Homo sapiens: one gene and its partners. The protein of the gene in region 3 interacts with the protein of the main gene of each other region in a biochemical or structural test. Each region holds a gene or a part of one and is shown on either strand. Other genes may lie near its edges. The genes, in order: NLRP1, CASP3, BCL2, PPP3R1, BNIP2, CAPN2 and BMF.

Region 1 (2,446 bases), on a different chromosome or scaffold from region 3:
TTCATTTTTGTCGTTGTCTGTTTTTTCTGTTAAAATTAATTTGTTATTCCCATGTCCTAAGATTGCTTGATCTTGATTCTAGATTCTGACATCCAAATCCAGAACGTACACCTTTGGTTGGTGCCAGTCTAGAAGGCTAAACAAGAACAAGGAAGTAGATTTCTGCTCAGACAAGGAGGTGCTAAATAGTTCAAGCTATCTAGCAAGGGGTTTGGTTAGTTCACCAGGGATACAATTCAGGCCAACACGGGATTAAAACCAAGTCTGGGATGTTATAGGAGAAATTGCTATCGCTCATTTGGATGTCTTCTATTACTGTATGATCACAGCTTCTGAGCCTCAGTTTCCCCATATGCATAAGGAAGGGATTCACCTAAATAACCTCTAAGGACCCTTCCAGCTCTTACTCCAGATTCTACCAGAATTTGTCTGTGGCTTTTTTCTAAATCAAAGAATCTCAGAAGTGAGTGGGAGCTTGGAGGTGTACCATGTGTGTTAATAACTTAGCACTGTTTCAGATGCATCTTCATCTCTGTTTTCCTCCAGGAGATCTCATGCCTGCAACTACTCTGATCCCTCCAGCCCGCATAGGTCAGTAACAGCTCTCAGAGACCACAGGAGGCGGTGGCAGTTCTGGGGTACTGTCTGGTTCTGGGGGAAGGGAAGAGAGAAAGGAAGGGACTCATCACTGCAAACCTCACAAAGAGTCAGGCCCTGGAGAGCGGTGCATGGTCGCTCCCCATACCCCCTTGTCCTATCCACAGAGACCCTAGAATTCCTTATCTGACAGCCTCCAATGTGCCCAGCAGGAACCCCACTCCCGATCCCCACTCTGGCAGAATGCCAAGCTAGATGCTGCCATGAGGGAGGACACAGGTGCATTTCTGGAGGCAGAAGGAAGCGAGGGATGCAGAGATGAGAGAGGAAAGCACTGAAGGTGGGGATTGGAGGTGGAGGCTGTGGTTGGAGCCCTTCTTTGTTCGTTGCCAGCCGTACCTTCACCTCTGGATGCCCCGCAGTTGCTGCACTTTGTGGACCAGTATCGAGAGCAGCTGATAGCCCGAGTGACATCGGTGGAGGTTGTCTTGGACAAACTGCATGGACAGGTGCTGAGCCAGGAGCAGTACGAGAGGGTGCTGGCTGAGAACACGAGGCCCAGCCAGATGCGGAAGCTGTTCAGCTTGAGCCAGTCCTGGGACCGGAAGTGCAAAGATGGACTCTACCAAGCCCTGAAGGAGACCCATCCTCACCTCATTATGGAACTCTGGGAGAAGGGCAGCAAAAAGGGACTCCTGCCACTCAGCAGCTGAAGTATCAACACCAGCCCTTGACCCTTGAGTCCTGGCTTTGGCTGACCCTTCTTTGGGTCTCAGTTTCTTTCTCTGCAAACAAGTTGCCATCTGGTTTGCCTTCCAGCACTAAAGTAATGGAACTTTGATGATGCCTTTGCTGGGCATTATGTGTCCATGCCAGGGATGCCACAGGGGGCCCCAGTCCAGGTGGCCTAACAGCATCTCAGGGAATGTCCATCTGGAGCTGGCAAGACCCCTGCAGACCTCATAGAGCCTCATCTGGTGGCCACAGCAGCCAAGCCTAGAGCCCTCCGGATCCCATCCAGGCGCAAAGAGGAATAGGAGGGACATGGAACCATTTGCCTCTGGCTGTGTCACAGGGTGAGCCCCAAAATTGGGGTTCAGCGTGGGAGGCCACGTGGATTCTTGGCTTTGTACAGGAAGATCTACAAGAGCAAGCCAACAGAGTAAAGTGGAAGGAAGTTTATTCAGAAAATAAAGGAGTATCACAGCTCTTTTAGAATTTGTCTAGCAGGCTTTCCAGTTTTTACCAGAAAACCCCTATAAATTAAAAATTTTTTACTTAAATTTAAGAATTAAAAAAATACAAAAAAGAAAAAATGAAAATAAAGGAATAAGAAGTTACCTACTCCATAGGCACAGCAGTCCCGACTGGCTGCTGGTTGGCTATTTTTGTGGTTATTTCTTGATCGTGTGCTAAACAAGGAGTGGATTATTCATGAGTTTTCCAGAGAAAGGGGTGGGAATTCCTGGAACTGAAGGTTCTTCCCCCTTTCAGACTACTTAGGGAAACTTCCAGATGCTGCCATGGCGTTCGTAAACTGTCATGGCGCTGGTGGGAATGTCTTTTAGTATGCTAATGTATTAAAATTAGCATATAATGAGCAGCGAGGACAACCGGAGGTCCCTTTCATCACCATCTTGGTTTGATGGGTTTTGGCTTCTTTACCACATCCTGTTTTATACGAGGAGTCTTTGTGAAACCAGTCCTGCCAACCTCCTATCTTATCCCCACCTCAGACATTACATACTCGTCCTTAATCTTAAGAGGTTGTAGAAGGACAGAGATCTATCTTCTGTCACTGCTTCATGCTGAACAGGGGCCATCATCCCTACCTGCTCTGGAGGCATAG
Region 2 (2,626 bases), on a different chromosome or scaffold from region 3:
TAGTTATTCTTTGTTTTCCATACAATTAAAAGTAATTCTTTCTGTTCCAAGGAATGACATCTCGGTCTGGTACAGATGTCGATGCAGCAAACCTCAGGGAAACATTCAGAAACTTGAAATATGAAGTCAGGAATAAAAATGATCTTACACGTGAAGAAATTGTGGAATTGATGCGTGATGGTAAGAAGAAACAATTAGAATGAACTTCATTGTACAATTAATTTTATACTATGGTCTAGCAATAATTATATGTATAATAAAATATGAGAATTGTGGAATTATACTGTACATAACCCTAATCTTACATACTTTAGTAAGAAGTTTAAAAAAAGTTATTTATGCCAACTTCCTAAAATGGTTTGAGATGTGTTGCCGTGCCCCAGGTTAGGTTAAGATGACCTCTTAGTTTTAGTCTCAGTTTCTTCATCATGTTCCCATACAGTATATCTGAAGTTGTTGAATAAAGTCATGGATTTTTTTTCCTTTTATTTGCAAATGTCTTTACAGTTTCTAAAGAAGATCACAGCAAAAGGAGCAGTTTTGTTTGTGTGCTTCTGAGCCATGGTGAAGAAGGAATAATTTTTGGAACAAATGGACCTGTTGACCTGAAAAAAATAACAAACTTTTTCAGAGGGGATCGTTGTAGAAGTCTAACTGGAAAACCCAAACTTTTCATTATTCAGGTAATGTCTAACTGAGTGATTTGGTTATTGACGATTAAGCAGGGGTTACTATTCTCAACTGTAAATTATCCAAAGGATAATTTTTTTCCTGAAGCTAATGAACTATTGTTACTTTTCATTTATTTACCACTTAAAAGATATAGAGTAAATTTTAATTTTATACTTATATCAAAAAGACTCAGCATAATTAACATCCTTTTTTTTTTTTTTTTTTTTTTTTTTAGACAGAGTCTTGCTCTGTCGCCCAGGCTGGAGTACAGTGGCGCGATCTCCGCTCACTGCAAGCTCTGCCTCCTGGGTTCACGCCATTCTCCTGCCTCAGCCTCCTGAGTAGCTGGGACTACAGGCGCCTGCCACCAGGCCCAGCTAATTTTTAAATTTTTTTTTAATAGAGACAGGGTTTCACCATGTTAGCCAGGATGGTCTCGATCTCCTGACCTCAAGTCATCCGCCCGCCTTGGCCTCCCAAATTGCTGGGATTAAAGGCGTGAGCCACCGCGCCCGGCCAATTAACATCCATTTTTACATAGCATTTCAATTTTTTAGAACTAAGTTATGTGTTCACACACAAATTTTTATAAATAAATATTTATTTTCTAACACCCAGGCCTGCCGTGGTACAGAACTGGACTGTGGCATTGAGACAGACAGTGGTGTTGATGATGACATGGCGTGTCATAAAATACCAGTGGAGGCCGACTTCTTGTATGCATACTCCACAGCACCTGGTGAGAACGTTACACATAATGAATGTTACATGTGGATTTTAAATGAATTAACTGTGACTGATCATAGAATTATACAATGAAAAGTGTGTTTCAGAGACTGTCAAGATTTTGATATCCCTAAAGATATCAAAACTTGTCTATATTTTAGGGAACCTTCATCAAAGAGAAGTCTCAAAAAGTTGTCTTTAGCCAAAAGTTTGGCTAGAAAATATGCATATATAGCCAGGCACAGTGACTCACGCCTGTAATCCTAGCGCTTTGGGAGGCCGAGGCAGGTGGATCACTTGAGGTCAGGAGTTCAAAACCAGCCTGGCCAACCTCATCTCTACTAAAAATACAGAAAAATTAGCTGGGCATGGTGGCACACGCCTGTAATCCCAGCTACTGGGGAGGCTGAGGCAGGAGAATCGCTTGAACCTGGGAAGCAAAGGTTGCAGTGAGCCAAGATCGCACCACTGCACTTCAGCCTGGGCGACAGAGTGAGACTCCGTCTCAAAGGAAAAAAAGAAAAGAAAATATGCATATGTAGAGTAGACTAGCACGATGTCATTCATTGGACTTTATCAGGTAGATCTCCGCTACTAATATCAGGTAGAATATTACGTGGCAACAGAGGCCAAGTCAGAGCTTCCCCTGCATCTTAGAGAAGAAGAGAGGTACGTTTCTCAGGAGTTATTTGAAAGGTAGTAAATAAAAAAGATAAACATGACTAGTATACAAGAGGATAGATGTGGAGTGGGAGAAAAGAAGGTAAAAAACGATACATGAATGTGCCGTTAACCTCCACGTTTTTACTGTTCTGCTGCACACGTCATCATCTAAATAAACATTTGTGGATTATACCACCATTTACTCACACAGCTAAGGGTGTCGGAGAGTTTGGAAACTTTAGGTAAATGTATTCTTAAGCAGTGTTGCATTTTAAAATATGCTCAATATGGTTTATCTTATCCTCTAGGCATCTTTCCAAGCAAAGTACCTCTAAGTTAAAAGCAATGGGTCTAATAGTTAACCTAGAAAAAAAAGTATGATAAATATACTATTTTCCCTTTTTGGACCAATACTTGGTAGTGTGTTTATTATACTTTATTCAGATGCTCTGTAGACAAGTAGGACACTCAAAGCAATTTGTTTCTTGGCTAAGTCAGTATTAAAATAAGGTGAAATCTGATTGGAACACTGTGCTACTTACAATGATCCTTTTTATACATCTTT
Region 3 (3,500 bases):
CCAAAATCTGAAGATGCTCAAGTCCCTGATATTAAATGAGTAGTACTTGCATATGCACATCCTCCTATATACTTTATTTTATTTATTTGTTTGTTTATTTATTTATTTTTTGAGACAGAGTCTCGCTCTGTCCCCTAGGCTGGAGTGCAGTGACACGATCTCGGCTCACTGCAACCTCCGCCTCCTGGGTTCAAGCAATTCTCCTGCCTCAGCCTCCCGAGTAGCTGGGATTACAGGCGCCCACCACCACACCTGGCTAATTTTTCTATTTTTAGTAGAGAAAGGGTTTCACCATGTTGGCCAGGCTGGACTTGAACTCCTGACTTCAAGTGATCCACCCACCTTGAGCTCCCACAGTGCTGGGATTACAGGCCTAAGCCACTGTGCCTGCCCTACCCCATATATTTTTGATCCAAAGTTGGTTGAATCCATGGATGTGGAACCCAAAGATAGGGAGGGCTGTCTATACAAGTTTCACAACTTAGTATGCAGTGGTAAGTTCTCAAAACTATGGATTTATCTCAGGAGAGTTCTCCATGCCCCAGTCAAATCAGACTCTCCACAATTCCCCAAACACACCTCCCGCATTCATGCCTGCTTTGACGCCTCCAGTTTCCACTACCTGAAAGACCCTCTCCCCGTATCGCCTGCCTGTTCTCTAAAACTTGTCTCAACATTATCTCCGGCATGAAACTCTTCAGATACCACTGTAGCTGGGTTGGGCCTCTCTGTCTACTACACATTGTCCAGGATTACAGTGATTTGTATCCTTGTCTTGGTCTCCTACTGATTGGTAAGTTCCTTGAAGGCAAAAGTTATCTTAGACATTTTTTCGCTTAACTAAAACACCTAGCATAGAGCTTTGCATGGTGTAGGGCCTCAATAAATGTTTTTTTCAATGAAACAAGTTAGTGTGCATGTTTTCCTAAATAACCAGATTCTAAAACCCCTCTCCATGACCATCACTACCCCGGTTCCTGGGAACCCAGGGTTAAGTTTTGTGGACAATTGCTCATTTCCCTCAATTAGGACTTCTTCAAATCATTTTCTTCTTATACTATCACTTTAATGTTTAGTAAGTGGCTTTGTCTCCCTGTTCTTATAATTTTGTTATAAAATACCTCAAAACCTCTCTGTGTGTCTTCAGTGTGTGTGTTTTTAAAGATGCTGGCAGGAATCCATAAAGGATATGGCTAGGAGATAGCCCTGAAATTTTACATCCAGAAATGCCAATGCTGCCATCCTTTATGGACTCGCTTTTTTTTTTTCAAGAAGATAAATCAATATTTAAAGCTGATGATATAATTTGTACTTAATTTTATTCCTATTTTAATTGTAAATCAGATATCAATATATCTGAGATATAGCATTGAACTAAGAAGACTAAGTTTATGTGTCTCATGTTCTTTTAGAAAATTCTAATGCAGCTGAGAGGAATATTTGGCTGCAATTCAATTTCAGAGTTAATATAGAGATATAGCATTCATCATGTTGTAAAGCAGAAAAAATATCATCCTGGTTATCTGCTAAGGAGAGCTGGAAAAAGTCAAGAAGAGACAGCCTGCAACACTGATCCTTTGTTTGGTGCTTCAAGTATTAAAATTGGTAAACTCACCATACTCTGTTGCAGCTTAACTGTCTTTTCGACAGTTAAAAATAAGGAAATATGGTAACTGGATCTGTCACAAGAAAAGATGTATTGGTCTCAATGGAGAAAACCTCCCCTGAAAAATTAAAGCTTCACTTGACACAGTGGGTTCTCGGGTTGTTTTTGGGAGACATGATAATGAGCAGAGTGGAGTCAGTCATCAGTTTCTGACTCATTACATGGAAGCCCCAGAGAGCTGATTATTAACTAAAAATGGAATACGCTTCTATCCCTGAAGTTGTGAAGGCAAAACAAGAAGCAGAATGGAAACACAAATTTCCCCATTGACGCATGTGGCCCAAACGCGATGCTCAAGGGCAGGTGTCTTCCACAGTTAACCTGCTCATGGAATGTGGTTGATCGCCCCAGAAAATCACCCAAGTCACTCTCAGTATATTGCTACAAATGGCCATACCAGTATGTCAGGGAGATTCCCTTTCTCACATGTTTAAAAGGGCGTTTGGGGAAGTAGTCCTTACCCTAAGCTATTTTAGTTTAGTTAGTCAAACATTTATTGAAGTCTCAGGTATAACCCCACTATAATCTTGCACTAGAGGAATCAAAGTAAGTACAAATTTTGCCAGCAGATACTATCTTTTCTCTGCACAGGTTAAAGTTTATAATCACTAGAGGAAAAGGATAGTGTCTGGTCACAGAATTTTGACCTGCCCAGCTGCCTGCAGCAAGTTTGGGGTGAGGGTTATCCTCTCACTTTGATTAGACTCCCCACTTCTGCTCCCTTTTGCTAGTATCTAAGCGCATTACGGTTTTCTTCAGGTAAATCCTACCCATCACTAATTGGAAGTTAACAAGGAGCTACACCTGAGAGGTCCCTCACCGGTGGAATGATAAGGCAGGTAGGGGATGGTCACAGGGGTGGTGGCACCTATGAGAAAGTCCCATGGCTTGGAAGAGAGAGGAATAATCATTCAATCCTTATTCACACTGAAGGACAGATGGGTGTATCTTTTGTCTGGCAAATGGAGGGCAGAGAAATAGTGCTATAGCATATACAGAATTGGGCATATATAAGAACAACAAGTGACAATCTATAAAAATATGTTTTTAAGTGAAAACAGCTTTGTTGGCATTTTGAAAGTTTTACAGTCTCCATTTAAACGAACAGACCACAAGCCCAAAAAAGTCCGAAGGCAAATGCCAGTGTTACAATGGACTGTGAATTTCTGTAACTAGCATCGTAGAAGTGTCTTGATAAATAGAACAGTAATATAACCTCAAACCAAAACAAAACAGAAGCTTTTTTTTCCCCTGCTCAAAGGAAGAGCCCCCGCTCTGGTTCAAAACCTACTTGTATTTTTTGGCATACAAGAGTTATTTAAGAAAGATAGTTCTTCAAATTACCCTGTTCCAGTCAGTCTAATCGGAGCCTTGATTGTCTTTTACTTAAAAAGAATTAATGAAATGCTTTAGAAATTGTAGACTGGTGTTTATTAAGTCTTCTTAGTATGCATAAATAGTGCTTAGTGGGTTAATATTTAACAAGGGAACTCCCCCTGCCTTTCAGTTCTCTTAAGCATATGTCTACGTTACACAGTATTTTTTAAAGTATCTACATTTTGGCCCTGTTTAAATTAGGCCTAATGCACACATGAACAGCCATATGGTCAGAAATAACGTTCTTAGACCAAGGCTGAAGTACATGCAAAATAACTTATAGTTATTTGCTTTTTTCCTCTAAGTCTCTGAGTCTAGGATCATGCTTATCAGGCTGTATGATAACTACGAGTTTATTAAGATGCCTGCAACACTAGCCTGTGAGTTTATCCAGGGCAGAAGCAAAGCTCTCCTTGCCGTGCCTCCAACCTAACCCAAGGCAGGACTCATGTAAGAC
Region 4 (3,500 bases), on a different chromosome or scaffold from region 3:
ACAAAACCATAATAAATGCAGATAAGGATGGAGATGGAAGAATATCCTTTGAAGAATTCTGTGCTGTAAGTACAAAAGAGCTGGTTCTTCCGTTAGTTATGTTTCAGCAACATATTTTAAAAACCACTTAATAGAGAATTTCCATATTTTGTCCTAAAAACTTAAGTATTTGATTTTTCCTAATTGCCCGTATTGTTTTGAAATGTGTTCTTCATTGTAATTATTAACAATTATTATTCCCAAGGATACTACTTTACTTATTGTTGGTAGCCTCTCAAATTACAACTAGGTTATACTCTTAAGGTTCATTTAATCACTCATTGCTTCTGAACAGAAGCACAACCACAACCACTTAGCTTCTCTTCTCTACTTATGCCCTAAAAACAGAGAGTAGGCTTTTTGATGTGTTACAAGGATTTTAAACTGCAAGCTAGAGATACTAGAGAAAACTAGAGCATCCAGAGTAGAGGCAAAGATAACAAAGTTTTGAAATTTTTCTGTCAGTAATGATTGGATGCTTCCATAGAAAGATTTTCTTCCTCCTTTTTATTTTTAAATGTAAATCATATAAGGAAAAACAAGTGATTTTGATAGTTGTGTGTTATGTGAGAACTGAAGTGTAGCTACTTTGACCTTTAAGTAGAAGTTCATATTATCCTTAAGCAAAAACCATCTTTTTATTATGTTTTCAAAAAGTGGGGTGGCACTGTAAAGAATAGACTGCGTCTTTTTTTGGAAGAGTTAGATGGGTTTGAGACGTTTAAGACACTGAACTACCCCCAGGGGGCGCTACCGCAAGCCATTTCTGTCCCTTCCGTTTTACCTCCTTCACCATTGCCAAGGGTCACTGTGAACTGGCATTTGGTGGAGTGTGACATGAGACCAGGCTGGTTGTGCCATCATAAATAGCAGCCAGTTTTCAAAAGAAGGAAAGGAGAAATTCTAAGCCTTAGGGGAATAAAATAAATGGAAAATTCTTGGCTTCAATGGTATTGGAAGAGGGGAGATATATATATATATATAAATAAAATGTATATATCTTATGTATATTTTACATATATATAATATATAAATTATAAATATAATATAAATATAAGAAATATAAATATATAAATATAATATATAAATGAAGATTACTTGCATTTAGCAAATATAAAATGTAATAAGTATATCACATCAGTGGAAGGAAATTAAAATATATCTTTTATATATAGAAATAATGCTGTTATCTATATTGAAGACATAAGCTAAGTTTCGAGTTTATTTTCCAATATTTATTTTAGTTTATTTTTAAGCTTTCTTTTTTTTTTTTTTTGAAACGGAGTCTCACTCTGTCACCAGGCTGGAGTGAAATGGCAGAGTCTTGGCTCACTGCAACCTCCGACTCCCTGGTTCGAGTGATTTTCCTGCCTCAGCCTCTTGAGTAGCTGGGATTACAGGCACATGCCACCAGGCCCAGCTAATTTTTGTATTTTTAATAGAGATGGAGTTTCACCATGTTGGCCAGGATGGTCTCGATCTTCTGACCTTGTGATCCACCTGCCTTGGCCTCCCAAAGTGCTGGGATTATAGGCGTGAGCCACTGCGCCTGGCCCATTTTTAAGTTTTTGTAGACAGGGGTCTCGCTATGTTGCCCAGGCTGGTCTCCAGCTCCTAGCTTCAAGCGATCGTCCCATTTCAGCCTTCCAAAGCATTGGGATTACAGGCACGAGCCACTGTGTCTGGCCACCAGTATTTGTAATCAGTTGCTTTTTGCTTGTATTTTTAAGGGGCATAGTTTACGAGTGGAGAAAAATGTTCGTTGTGTTTTTAAAACCAACTTTTCTAAACATTGATCAAGCGCTTGTAACTGGCTTCATTGAGTTCTTTTTATGTTGACTTCTCAAGCTATAACAGTGAAAGATTGGAAGTTATTTTAAAAGATTGCATACTATATATGTACTTTAAAATTTTCAGAGTACTTAATGTATACAAATAATTCTTACAGATGATTAGTGACAGGCTTAAAGTTGGTGTATTGAACCCATGTATAATTTATTTTTACCTCCTCCCCAAACTCCAATAAAATGCAATGAATTAGAAAGGGTTATGTACTCACAAGGACAAAAATGAAGAGCAGAGAAGAGACAGCATCTAAATTTGGTAATTTAGAACGTTTAGAAAGTTGAATGGTTAACTAACCTAGCAGAATGATTCTAAGCTTTATCAGCTTGGAAATCTGAGAAACAAGCTGGGTTATAATGGAGAATCCGTGAAAGGCTCAGAAATTGATGGCACAAGCAACTGGAAGTGAGGATGAAAGTGAGGCTAAAAACAGAAAGACTGGTTAAAGTCTGTTTTAAGAAGGAACTGGAACACACAAGATCGCCTTCCCTACTCTGTTCCCCTGGACAGCTCTCTCTCCTGCACCCTATCAAGAGATTGGGGAGAGTCTCTAGGCTGGGAAACATGAGGCAGAGATGAGGTATATGTGTTGGGGAGCTAAGTGGCAGTAAGCATATTTGCATATTGGCATCTGTGCCCTTGTTCTGTACCTGACTTCCTGACTCCCTAGCAGCTGGACTTACACTGTCTAGGTAAGAGATGGGAAAGAGCCCTCTTTAGGAAATCTTATCTCCCCAAAGAAATGGTGCTACCAGATCATTCAAAGTATAGCTCTCACTTAACAGCCCCATCATTCACCCAGAGTTCCAGTGCCCTTTCTACAGAAGCAAAGCCAAGGATCTCACCAAACACTGAAGGAAACCTCTGTGTATGGAATATAAAGATGAAACCAGGTCCAAAAAAATAAGTTCAAAACAAACAGATTAGACAAGACCAGTAAAAATTTTAAAAGGAAAACTGAAACCTGTCATTATCCTTGGGGATATTGTATATTGAATTTTTGAAACAAAAGTTGGATAATATATAAAAAAGCTCTTGGGAATGTAATTTTACATACCTATTTTTGGAGTTGTAACACCCGAATGCCAGGATTCCAGAAGGAAAATGGAGGGAAATAAATAATCAAAAATGAATCAAGAAAATACTCCAAAGCCAAAAATAATATGTTTTCTGAGAGGGCTTATGGAGCATCTAGCATAGTCTGTAAAAATAATCTGGACCTGGGCACACTGTCATGAAATTTTGAGACAGTGGGAACAAATAACTGGTTCTGCAGATTTCCAAAGAGCTGGGGTGGTAGGGTGGAGTGCTGGGAGAAGGGCTTCATATAAACAACCAGGAGTCATAATGGCACCAGATTTCTTAGTAGCAGTGTGGGAAACCCACAAGAACATGGAGCATTTTGCCTGTGCAATTCTGAGGGACAGTTATTTCCAACTTAAAATTCTCTATACACTCAAATGGTAGTAGAAAGACACTTTTAGGTATGTAAGGCCTTCTCATTTTGGAAACTACTGGAGGATGTGCTCCCACTGCAATAAGGTCATAAATCAAACAAGTAGAGAGTGTAGGATCCAGGAAGCAGAGGGTCCAGCATGGTGAGAGGGAGGATCCCC
Region 5 (3,500 bases), on a different chromosome or scaffold from region 3:
AATATAATCCATAGTATGAAATATATTTTCAATCATAACCTGAGATACTATACATGCAACTGAAAACAAGTATTTTCACTGAACAGTATCCTTACTATAAACAGTATTTAACTTTCCCAGAATATATGTAGTCTGAGTATTCTCTTTTCTTTAAAAAAAAAAAAAAATTGCAACCCTGTAAATGAATTTCATGACCAGACCATTGTACTAAACATCAAGTATGAACTAATATATAAGATTATTACGCCTTTTCAGTGGATAAAAAGTAAAGTGGAAATTAAGTTATACATTTTTCTCTCTTCATAGGACATTGGCTCCCTGGATTATCAAGAGTTTGTAGTTGACATTGAATCCAGGCTGAGGATGGAAGGTGTGGAACTTAAAGAAGAATGGCAAGATGAAGATTTTCCGATGTGAGCAATGCTTTTAAAAGAAAACAATTTTAGAGCAAAAGTTCAAAATTTCTTTATCGAGATGTTACTTTTTTTTTTTTTGAGACGGAGTCTTGCTCTGTTGCCCAGGCTGGAGTGCAGTGGCGCGATCTCAGCTCACTGCAACCTCCGCCTCCTGGATTCAAGCAATTCTTCTGCCTCCACCTCCCAGGTAGCTGGGACTATAGGTGTGCGCCACCACGCCTGGCTAATTTTTGTATTTTTAATAGAGACGGTGTTTCACCATATTGGCCAGGCTGGTCTCAAACTCCTGACCTCGTGATCTGCCTGCCTTGGCCTCCCAAAGTGCTGGGATTACAGGTGTGAGCCACTGCACAGCTGAGATGTCACTGAGAAACTCAGTAATACAAGGCGATCATTTGATACTAGGAAGTAAAGTTTCTTCGGAACAGTTAGATTGATTCTCTTGTATCTTACTTTCCAACCAAGTATATATATAATCTTCTATAATCTTTCATTTTTGTTTTGGTCACTTAAGTTTGCAAATTTTTGCTTTTATAATAAAGTGTTTTAGTGTGGTTTGTTTGTTTTGTTTTGTTTTTGTTTTCATTTAAACAAGATCTGAGGGATTCCTCAGAGAAGGAGGTCTTTAGTTGTCTTTAAAATGTTTCTTTAATTTTGTGGCCAGGTGCGGTGGCTCACGCCTGTAACCCCAGCACTTTGGGAGGCCGAGATAGGCAGATCACTTGAGGCCAGGAGTTTGAGACCAACGTGGCCAACATGGTGAAACCCCGTCTCTACTAAAAATACAAAAAATTAGCCAGGCTTGGCGCTCGCCTGTAGTCCCAGCTGCTTAGGAGGCAGAGGCACAAGAATCACCTGAACCCAGGAGGCAGGGGTTGCCGTGAGCCAAGGTCGCGCTGCTGCACTCCAGCTTGGGCGACCGAGCAAGGCTCTATCTCAAAAAAAAAAAAAAAAATTTGTGGGTTCCCCCCCACCAAAAAAAAAAAAACCTTACTAAGTAAATTAATAAGGATTTTCTAGCTTATCTGGCCAGCCACCTTGACATGTTTGCATTTGTATTTACAATTATATTGGCACCAGGTAGGCTAATGAAAAAGAGAGCAAAGGCAGACCTTAAGTTTAAATAGTGCTTCCGTGCCGTACTTGTCAGAAGACATCCTAGTGCATAATCAGGTGCCTTAGCAGTTGGATAGCTTAGCAGTTGGACAGCTGATCGGAGACCTGAGTCACTGTTGCATATGGTGGTGATAGTAAATATAGGAATGCTGATCTCAGAAGAATTGAACCATTGTTACTGTAGTCTCGTGAGTAAAAATTGAGCTTCATACATTGCATCATACATCACATTATATTTGTGCATTTCAGTCATATTTGTTTAAAATTGTTACATGTTTTATAATTGTATAAGAGCTGTTGCATAAGGAATTTATATCTACTTTTATGTGTTACTTATATATAATAAGTGTATAAGTCAGCTCTGACAGTCAGAATTTTTACTTTGAAAGTGTAGCCAGGCATAGCACGTCACGCCTATAATCCTAGTGCTTTGGGAGGCCGAGGCAGAAGGATTGCTTGAGACCAGCCTGGGCAACATAGCAATATCCGGTCTCTACCAAAAAAACTTTTAAAATTAGCTGGGCATGTTGGTGTGCCACTGTAGTCCTAGCTACTCAGAAGGCTGAGACTTTATCTTAAACACTGCTAGGCTGGGCACAGTGGCTCATGCCTGTAATCCCAACACTTAGGGAGGTCAATGCACGAGAATCGTTTGAGCCCAAAAGTTCAAGGCCAGCCTGGGTAACATAGCAAGACCCTGTCTCTACTAAAAATTAGCCAAGCGTCGTGGCACGCACCTGTAGTCTTAGATACTCGGGAGGATCTCTTGAGCCCAGGAGTTAAGGCTGCAGTGAGCCATGATTGTGCCATTGTATTCCAGCCTAGGTGACAGACAGCAAGACCCTGTCTCAAAAACAACAACACTGCTTTATTCCATTTTCCAAATAATTATTTCTATAAGCTGTATGTTTAATAGATTGAACTTCAAAAAAAAATTCTTTCTTAATTTCTGGATTAAAAAGTATGCCTGTGTCTTCTAGACCTTTACCAGAAGATGATAGTATTGAAGCAGATATACTAGCTATAACTGGACCAGAGGACCAGCCTGGTAAGAGCTTGACACTTACTTTCATTGAAATTATGGACTTTGTGTTATTTTTTAAAACACGTTTCTTTGTCCAAAAAAAAAAAAAACTTGAGTTTTTATTCCATCATAGAAGTCAAAGTATAAGTTGAACATTGAGGAAAGCATTTTTAGAATGCTTTAAAAAAAATTCCAAAAACATACACTTGGTTTTTGGAAAGTTTTACAGTAAAGGGGTGGAGGAGATCATTTTTAGTGGTAAGAGGTATCTATAAGGTCTGCCTCTATTTAAAAGACATTGATACTTTATTGATCTCTTGCCAACGATGTAGAAGCAATAATGATCAGAATAAAAATTTTGTGAATAGGTGCTTTGAAATTATGTTCAATTAATATTATTTTTTCCCAAGAATGGGGTAGTTAAAATTTTTCTTATTCAACTTTAGCATCTAAGCATTCCTTGTTACGTATCTTTTTCTTTATTTTCCAATTCCAGGCTCACTAGAAGTTAATGGAAATAAAGTGAGAAAGAAACTAATGGCTCCAGACATTAGCCTGACACTGGATCCTAGTGATGGCTCTGTATTGTCAGATGATTTGGATGAAAGTGGGGAGATTGACTTAGATGGCTTAGACACACCGTCAGAGAATAGTAATGAGTTTGAGTGGGAAGGTAAATGTTTCACTGTTTTTAATCTGATCTTTATTAATGTACTAAGGGATTTTGTTTGAAATACATCATTCTTTCTAAAGTTCATATATTTGTTACTAAGATAGGAAATTGTGCTAACCCTTGAATATTCTCAAGGACTTAAAAAGTGTGTATAGAGTACACCAGTGGCTTTTTTCCCCTCTTATTTGCCCACTGCTCTCATGTTTTTTTCATAGCTGTTTCAAAAATATTTCTTGATAATTATGGCATGCTCTTTTTTAGTCAATCAAGT
Region 6 (3,500 bases), on a different chromosome or scaffold from region 3:
CAGTGATCTTTCAACAAATGGTAAAGCTTCTCTGAGCTCCTTTACCAAAAGCGCATCCTGTCAGTTAAGCTGAAGTTCAGAGATGAAGCACCAACAGCCCCATCCTCGAGAGCCGGATCCTGGGAGCTTTAAATCTCATTTTCCAAAGCTAGGCAGCAGTGAGAGGTCTGGGTGCCAAGCCCCCTCTAGCTCTTGTGATCCTCCCTCATACATGGACTCAACCCCCAAATCCTCCCCACCGTCCTCAGCCCCATACCTCCTGGCTCATGCGGAAGGGGGTTGGAGGCCCAAGCCTTCATAGCCCTGACTTGAACTCAACCTCTTACTCCTCCCTTTTATCTAATCCTGCAGGTTGAAAGTAACGGAAGCCTACAGAAACTGATCCGCATCCGAAATCCCTGGGGAGAAGTGGAGTGGACAGGGCGGTGGAATGACAAGTGAGGAGGGCGCAGGCCTCGGGGCCCCAGGCGGGGGTGCATTGTGCTGGGAGGCTCTGGGAAGAGGGCGAGAGAAGAAGACATGTGCATTATTCTGAGAAATATAGCCAGGAGAGCCCAGGCCACGTGGACAGGGACCCGTGGACAGGGGCCCCTCAAAGGGTCTTTTAACCAGGACACTCCTCCAGCAGCCTGAGTGCCTTCTTCCAGGCCCCAAGCTGCTCGTGTGAAGTTCATTCCTGCCACTGCCTCCAGGTTCACCCCTTCCCTAGCTCAAATCCACCCTTCTATGGGGCTTTCAGGGAAAAAAATACACCCCACCTTCCCCCAGGCACTTCTATTACAGGGATGTGAACTTTGTACCAAAGGCCAGAGAAACATCCCTCTGTTGATTTCCAGGGCTTACTGGTAGGCATGTTGAACCCTCAACTATTTGGGGTAAACACTTGTTTGTACATCTGCTGTGGCAACCTCAGCCTACTTGCTCTGCCTCAGGTTGGAGAGGTGGGCAGTACAGAGGCCTGTGTGTAATTCCAGCCAAAGCTCAGGCAGTGGTTAGTTTACCCTGTGCACTGCCCCTGTGTACAGGGCCAGGTCCTTCTGCTCCGTGGACAGAGAGACACCTGCTGAGGCTTCCCAGGCCTCAGCCGGAGGCTCCTCATCAGATCTTCAGTTGTCTCTAAAAGAGCTGCCAGGCCCATCTCAATTGGGCAACTGCTCTGAGCTACTCCATCTCCCTCTAATGAACTATGTTCATTTTCTGGACTCTTCCTTGCCACTGTCTTCCAGCACAACTCACCCGCTCACTTTGCTCCCTGGTTTGCATCTGTATAGTGTTCTATACTCTTTAAAGTGCTGTAAGAGTATTAAAATGCAGCTGTTAGCCAGATGTGGGCTACTTTCCCCCTTTCTGGAGCCTGAGCCCTCAGAGGTGAGAGCAGATGTCCCTCTTCCTCAACTCTGGGGCCTTTGGGGAGAAATCATCGTACACTAACGCCTCTCTCTTTACTTTGTTTTCCAGCTGCCCAAGCTGGAACACTATAGACCCAGAGGAGAGGGAAAGGCTGACCAGACGGCATGAAGATGGAGAATTCTGGTAAGATTAGTGGAGGCTTCAGGGAAAGCTCTGTCTGCCCCAATGTTCTTTACTAGAAAACTGCTAATTAGAAAGAGTGTCGGCCAAAGTGAGTTTACCATGTCGAGGACACAAGCGTGTGGGATCCTGGTTTTGTTATTTTAAGTTCACTATAAGAGCCTGAATAAAGAAATTCTTAAGCCCCTTCAACGGTCCATCTTGACAATGGGGTTTATAAGCTGAGCAGCTTCAGAAAAAGGCTAAGAGGAATTCCTTTGGTAATGTTCAGATCCCAGGAAACAAGGGAAAGATGGGGCCTTTCTCCCCCAGGTTCCGGAGACTCATCCCAGCCCCTTAAGAAACTGGTCCCTTAGTGAGCAGCAATGGACCCACATGTCTGTGTGTCTGCGCCACTCTATAACCACCTGCACCTGGACACAACATGCTCTTTATCAAATGGGGCCCATATATTGTCACATTTGATGGGCACGGCTCCCATTTTTGCAGGTGAGAGTTCTGAGCTTCAGAGAAGTTTAAGTAACCTGCTCAAAGTCACCCAGCTAGAAAGTTGCAGCGCCAGGACTGGAATCTGGGCCTTCTGATTCTGAACCTGGTGCCCATCCACTCAGTTCTAATGAGCTGCTCTGCCTGGCTTTGGGTGGCTCCTGGTCTGGTGTTGGTGGAAAGTCAAGGCTTACCAGTGTGTCTTCTTATCACCTGTGATGATTGTCTCTGCTTTTGCCAGGATGTCTTTCAGTGACTTCCTGAGGCACTATTCCCGCCTGGAGATCTGTAACCTGACCCCAGACACTCTCACCAGCGATACCTACAAGAAGTGGAAACTCACCAAAATGGATGGGAACTGGAGGCGGGGCTCCACCGCGGGAGGTTGCAGGAACTACCCGAGTAAGGGCTGTTGCATATAAGGGCTGTTGCAATGCGGGGCCACCAAAGGCCAAAGCTCCCCTTACCCCACCCTGTGTACCACACCCCAGCCTAGCAGCCCCAGGAGGCAGCTCCTGCTCACTGGAACCCTCTCTGTCTTCTTTCTCCCTGAGCCTTTTCTTTTCCCTGAGCCTTTTCTCCCCGAGCTCTCTTTCTCAATCCCTTACCTCCTGCCCTACCCAGGACAAACCCAAGAGCCACTGTTTCTGTGATGTCCTCTCCAGGCCCTAGATTCCCCAGCGCCCATCATGACCTTCAGCCTGACCTTCCGCCATGCTCACGGAAGCAGTGCTCAATCCCACTTCACGGCCATGAGCTGCTCTATGCACCCCACACCCAGGCAGCCGAGCCTACAAGGGAACCTTGTCCCGGCACCCAGGGAGCCCTCCACATATCAGGCCCTGTTTGTTGCCCCATACTCACTTCAATCAGCAAATGTTGACTGGGCGCTGCCCAGATGGGGTGAAGATTTCTCCTCTGGTCCAGCCTTTGTTGAGCCCCTTGATTCTTCTGCCTTCATGGCTTAGTCCGTCAGCAGTTGTCTGAACATGATGACATCTGCCAATTATGGGGCACACCTTCAGTGCTTGGAACTATCCTAAGTGTTTTGTACACAGGGTGAGGATCCATAATCTGAAAATGTGAAATCTGAAATGCTCCAAAATCCAAAACTTTTTCAGCCCCAACATGATACCACAGGTGGAAAATTCGACACTTGACCTCAGGTGACAGGTCGCAGTCAAAACACAGTCAAAACTTTGTTTCATGCACAAAATTATTTTAAATATGCTATAGAATTACCTTCAGCCTATGTGTATAAATTATATATGAAACAGAAATGAGTTTTGTCATTAGACTTGAGTTCCATCCCTAAGATATGTTATGTATATACAAATATTCCAAAATCCAAAAAAATCCAAAATAGGAAACACTTCTGGCCCCAGGAATTTCAGATAAGGGATATTCAGCCTGCATAACATTCTATCTAACCTTCCCAACAAACTTCTGAGGCAGGCACTTTCTTATCACCTCCATCTCTAAGA
Region 7 (2,245 bases), on a different chromosome or scaffold from region 3:
AACCAAAATCGTGTGTGGTGGCAGATCCTCCTCTTCCTGCACAACCTTGCTTTGAATGGAGAAGAGAACAGGAACGGGGCAGGCCCTAGGTGAGGGTGGGCTGCCCTCTTCACATGGGGCACCAGGAACACCGTCTGGAACAGGAAGGACATCGGGCAGGACTGACACTGTGTCTTGTGAAATTGTTTTTTTGTTGTTATTTTGTGTTTTAATTTTTTTTAATTTCTCTCTGAGTGTACATACAACATACTCAAGCGGGACCTTCTTTCTCTGTCAGGCCCTTGACCTGGAATGGGGGCCTTTGTCAAACACTGTTGAAGGAGAGGCTGATGTGTCTGTGATGGTGAGAATTCCCAAGGGCTCTGACAAGTAGATTCTTCGACTGAGGAATCTACCAGTTGTCGAAGATGATCCGTTAGTGATGTTCTCTGGGAAGTGGACTGTGGTTTTTCCAGAGGAACTCAGTTAAGAAATCGAGAGTGGATTAGACTCCCAGTTCCACCAAACCTATGAGCCTTCCACTGTGGATGGGGGCCGTGATCCTGATGGTCACATTGCTTTAACCCAGCAGGGCTTCGGCCAGGGGCTTTCCACTTGAGGATAGCAGCTTCACTAGGCTGGCCGGCCAGCTCCACATCTGACTGGGTTCTTACTTCTCAGCCAGTACCTGCCCCATGGGCTCAAGGATTCCTGGCCAGCTCCTGCCACCTCCAGCAGACCTCAGGGAGGGTTGAGTTTCTCTAAGGACCCCTCAAACATGTCGCAAAATGAACCAAACTTCTGGCTAGGCCTCAAAACTGACTTGGTCCCACTTGGAGGCCCCAGGATTGGTCCTGAGGTACAGAGCCACTGCCACCACTGGCGGCCTGGGACCAGCTGGGTGTCAGCCACGGATGAGCCGAATAGCCAGTCAGCATGTTGCTGCTGGCAGCCTGTGCCTTTGTCAGCTCTTCTTTCAAAAGACCCCACCGACAGACCGCATTCCACCCCCAACATCGGCACTGAGGGACATCGGGGGCAAGTTTGCAGTGGGGCCGGAAAATATGGTGGCCACCCTACCATGAGAGTCAGCCGTAGGGGACCCCAGACCCCTTGGTTTCCTTGGAAACAACATACCTCTTCCCCCTTATCCCCAGTCCTTTTTCATACCTAGTGGGATACAGAAGAAGCCAGGACAGTGGCTTTGCCAGCTAAGTGACTTTTAGAGTAACAGATAACGATTAGAGTGGGGAACCGTCAAAGCTGGGTACACATTTCCTATCTTCCTCCAGCTTCCAGCTAGGCCAGAAGGGCATGCTCTGGAACCCAGCAGGATCACAGCTGCCTGTGCACGTCTTCCCTTCTCTCCCTGCTGCGGCACTTATGGAGAGGATCTAAAGCAGCCGGTGTGGCAGCTCCGATAGCAGGCACAGGGAATCTGTTAACCAGACGCTAGAAACTAAATTATAACTTTTGCATATGTGAGAAAAGACAACATTGGTGCTAACAGTGAAGTAAGGCCCAAAGGAAAGACGGCTTCCCTGGACAAAGAAGACCTCAGGGCTACCCAAGGAAATAGGAGGAGTCTAGAGTAGACTCACAAATCTGAACAAGCCCAAGTCTTCCAGTTCTGAGGAGAGGAGGTCTTCAGTACTATTGAAGGAGACATTGATCTTCTGGATGTACAGTTGTGCAGGTTGTTCACTGCACAAGGGCACCTGCAGCTAATGGAGGCTGGAATTCAGCTTGTGTTCTGCTCACTAAGCTGTGTGCGTGCCCTGGTGTGGGGCTACTTCTCCCAAGAAGAAGGGGTGCCTTTCCTAATTTGCAAAGGTGCCATATGGGCTCACAGCACCCTGGAGGAGAAGGGCCTCAAACTGTGCATGTAAGCCTTTGTTTTGTTCTGCTCAGATATTCTGGATATTACCTCTTCTTGGTCAGAATTCTATTCTCAGGGTGTGTACCATGATTTGTCTGCTAAGAAGACGGGTTCCTGCTTTGCAGAGAAGGAGCCGGGGACCAGCTTGAAGACTGGCTCTGGGACACACTGACCATTGTGAAATTCAGCCTTCCCTGTGGGTCTCCATACCATTTTATGATGTGTATGGGACATACGTTGTTCTCCCCTCTCTGGATCAAGGTGGTGACAGGCAGCCTGCTGCCGTATGCTTCAGTGGCACACACCAAAAAACCGGGATTATTTACAGCAGCCACTATTCACCCCTTTTGGCAGACTCTCCACCTGAGTTCAGTGAGAGAGAAAATG

What was found.
Region 1: the proteins of BCL2 (region 3) and NLRP1 form a complex in vitro, tested with the Homo sapiens proteins (one study listed by IntAct).
Region 2: of the proteins of BCL2 (region 3) and CASP3, one has a biochemical effect on the other in vitro, tested with the Homo sapiens proteins (one study listed by BioGRID).
Region 4: the proteins of BCL2 (region 3) and PPP3R1 form a complex in vitro, tested with the Homo sapiens proteins (one study listed by IntAct).
Region 5: the proteins of BCL2 (region 3) and BNIP2 form a complex in vitro, tested with the Homo sapiens proteins (one study listed by BioGRID).
Region 6: the proteins of BCL2 (region 3) and CAPN2 form a complex in vitro, tested with the Homo sapiens proteins (one study listed by BioGRID).
Region 7: the proteins of BCL2 (region 3) and BMF interact in a test that uses a peptide from one of them, tested with the Homo sapiens proteins (one study listed by BioGRID).

Annotation. Positions count from the first base shown.
Region 1 is NC_000017.11:5,513,618-5,516,063, reverse strand, and holds the end of NLRP1 (NACHT, LRR and PYD domains-containing protein 1), read left to right. Parts: intron 1-546; coding exon 547-591; intron 592-990; coding exon 991-1,310; 3' UTR 1,311-1,946; downstream 1,947-2,446.
Region 2 is NC_000004.12:184,629,822-184,632,447, reverse strand, and holds part of CASP3 (caspase-3 isoform a preproprotein), read left to right. Parts: intron 1-51; coding exon 52-180; intron 181-507; coding exon 508-683; intron 684-1,290; coding exon 1,291-1,411; intron 1,412-2,626. UniProt on the Homo sapiens protein: Thiol protease that acts as a major effector caspase involved in the execution phase of apoptosis. Following cleavage and activation by initiator caspases (CASP8, CASP9 and/or CASP10), mediates execution of apoptosis by catalyzing cleavage of many proteins.
Region 3 is NC_000018.10:63,309,770-63,313,269, forward strand, and holds part of BCL2 (apoptosis regulator Bcl-2), read right to left. Parts: intron 1-3,500. UniProt on the Homo sapiens protein: Suppresses apoptosis in a variety of cell systems including factor-dependent lymphohematopoietic and neural cells. Regulates cell death by controlling the mitochondrial membrane permeability. Appears to function in a feedback loop system with caspases.
Region 4 is NC_000002.12:68,183,033-68,186,532, reverse strand, and holds part of PPP3R1 (calcineurin subunit B type 1), read left to right. Parts: coding exon 1-65; intron 66-3,500. UniProt on the Homo sapiens protein: Regulatory subunit of calcineurin, a calcium-dependent, calmodulin stimulated protein phosphatase. Confers calcium sensitivity.
Region 5 is NC_000015.10:59,679,321-59,682,820, reverse strand, and holds part of BNIP2 (BCL2/adenovirus E1B 19 kDa protein-interacting protein 2), read left to right. Parts: intron 1-306; 5' UTR 307-363; coding exon 364-413; intron 414-2,512; coding exon 2,513-2,580; intron 2,581-3,052; coding exon 3,053-3,229; intron 3,230-3,500.
Region 6 is NC_000001.11:223,750,539-223,754,038, forward strand, and holds part of CAPN2 (calpain-2 catalytic subunit), read left to right. Parts: intron 1-351; coding exon 352-437; intron 438-1,458; coding exon 1,459-1,533; intron 1,534-2,257; coding exon 2,258-2,418; intron 2,419-3,500. UniProt on the Homo sapiens protein: Calcium-regulated non-lysosomal thiol-protease which catalyzes limited proteolysis of substrates involved in cytoskeletal remodeling and signal transduction. Proteolytically cleaves MYOC at 'Arg-226'.
Region 7 is NC_000015.10:40,089,635-40,091,879, reverse strand, and holds part of BMF (bcl-2-modifying factor), read left to right. Parts: coding exon 1-93; 3' UTR 94-2,245. UniProt on the Homo sapiens protein: May play a role in apoptosis. Isoform 1 seems to be the main initiator.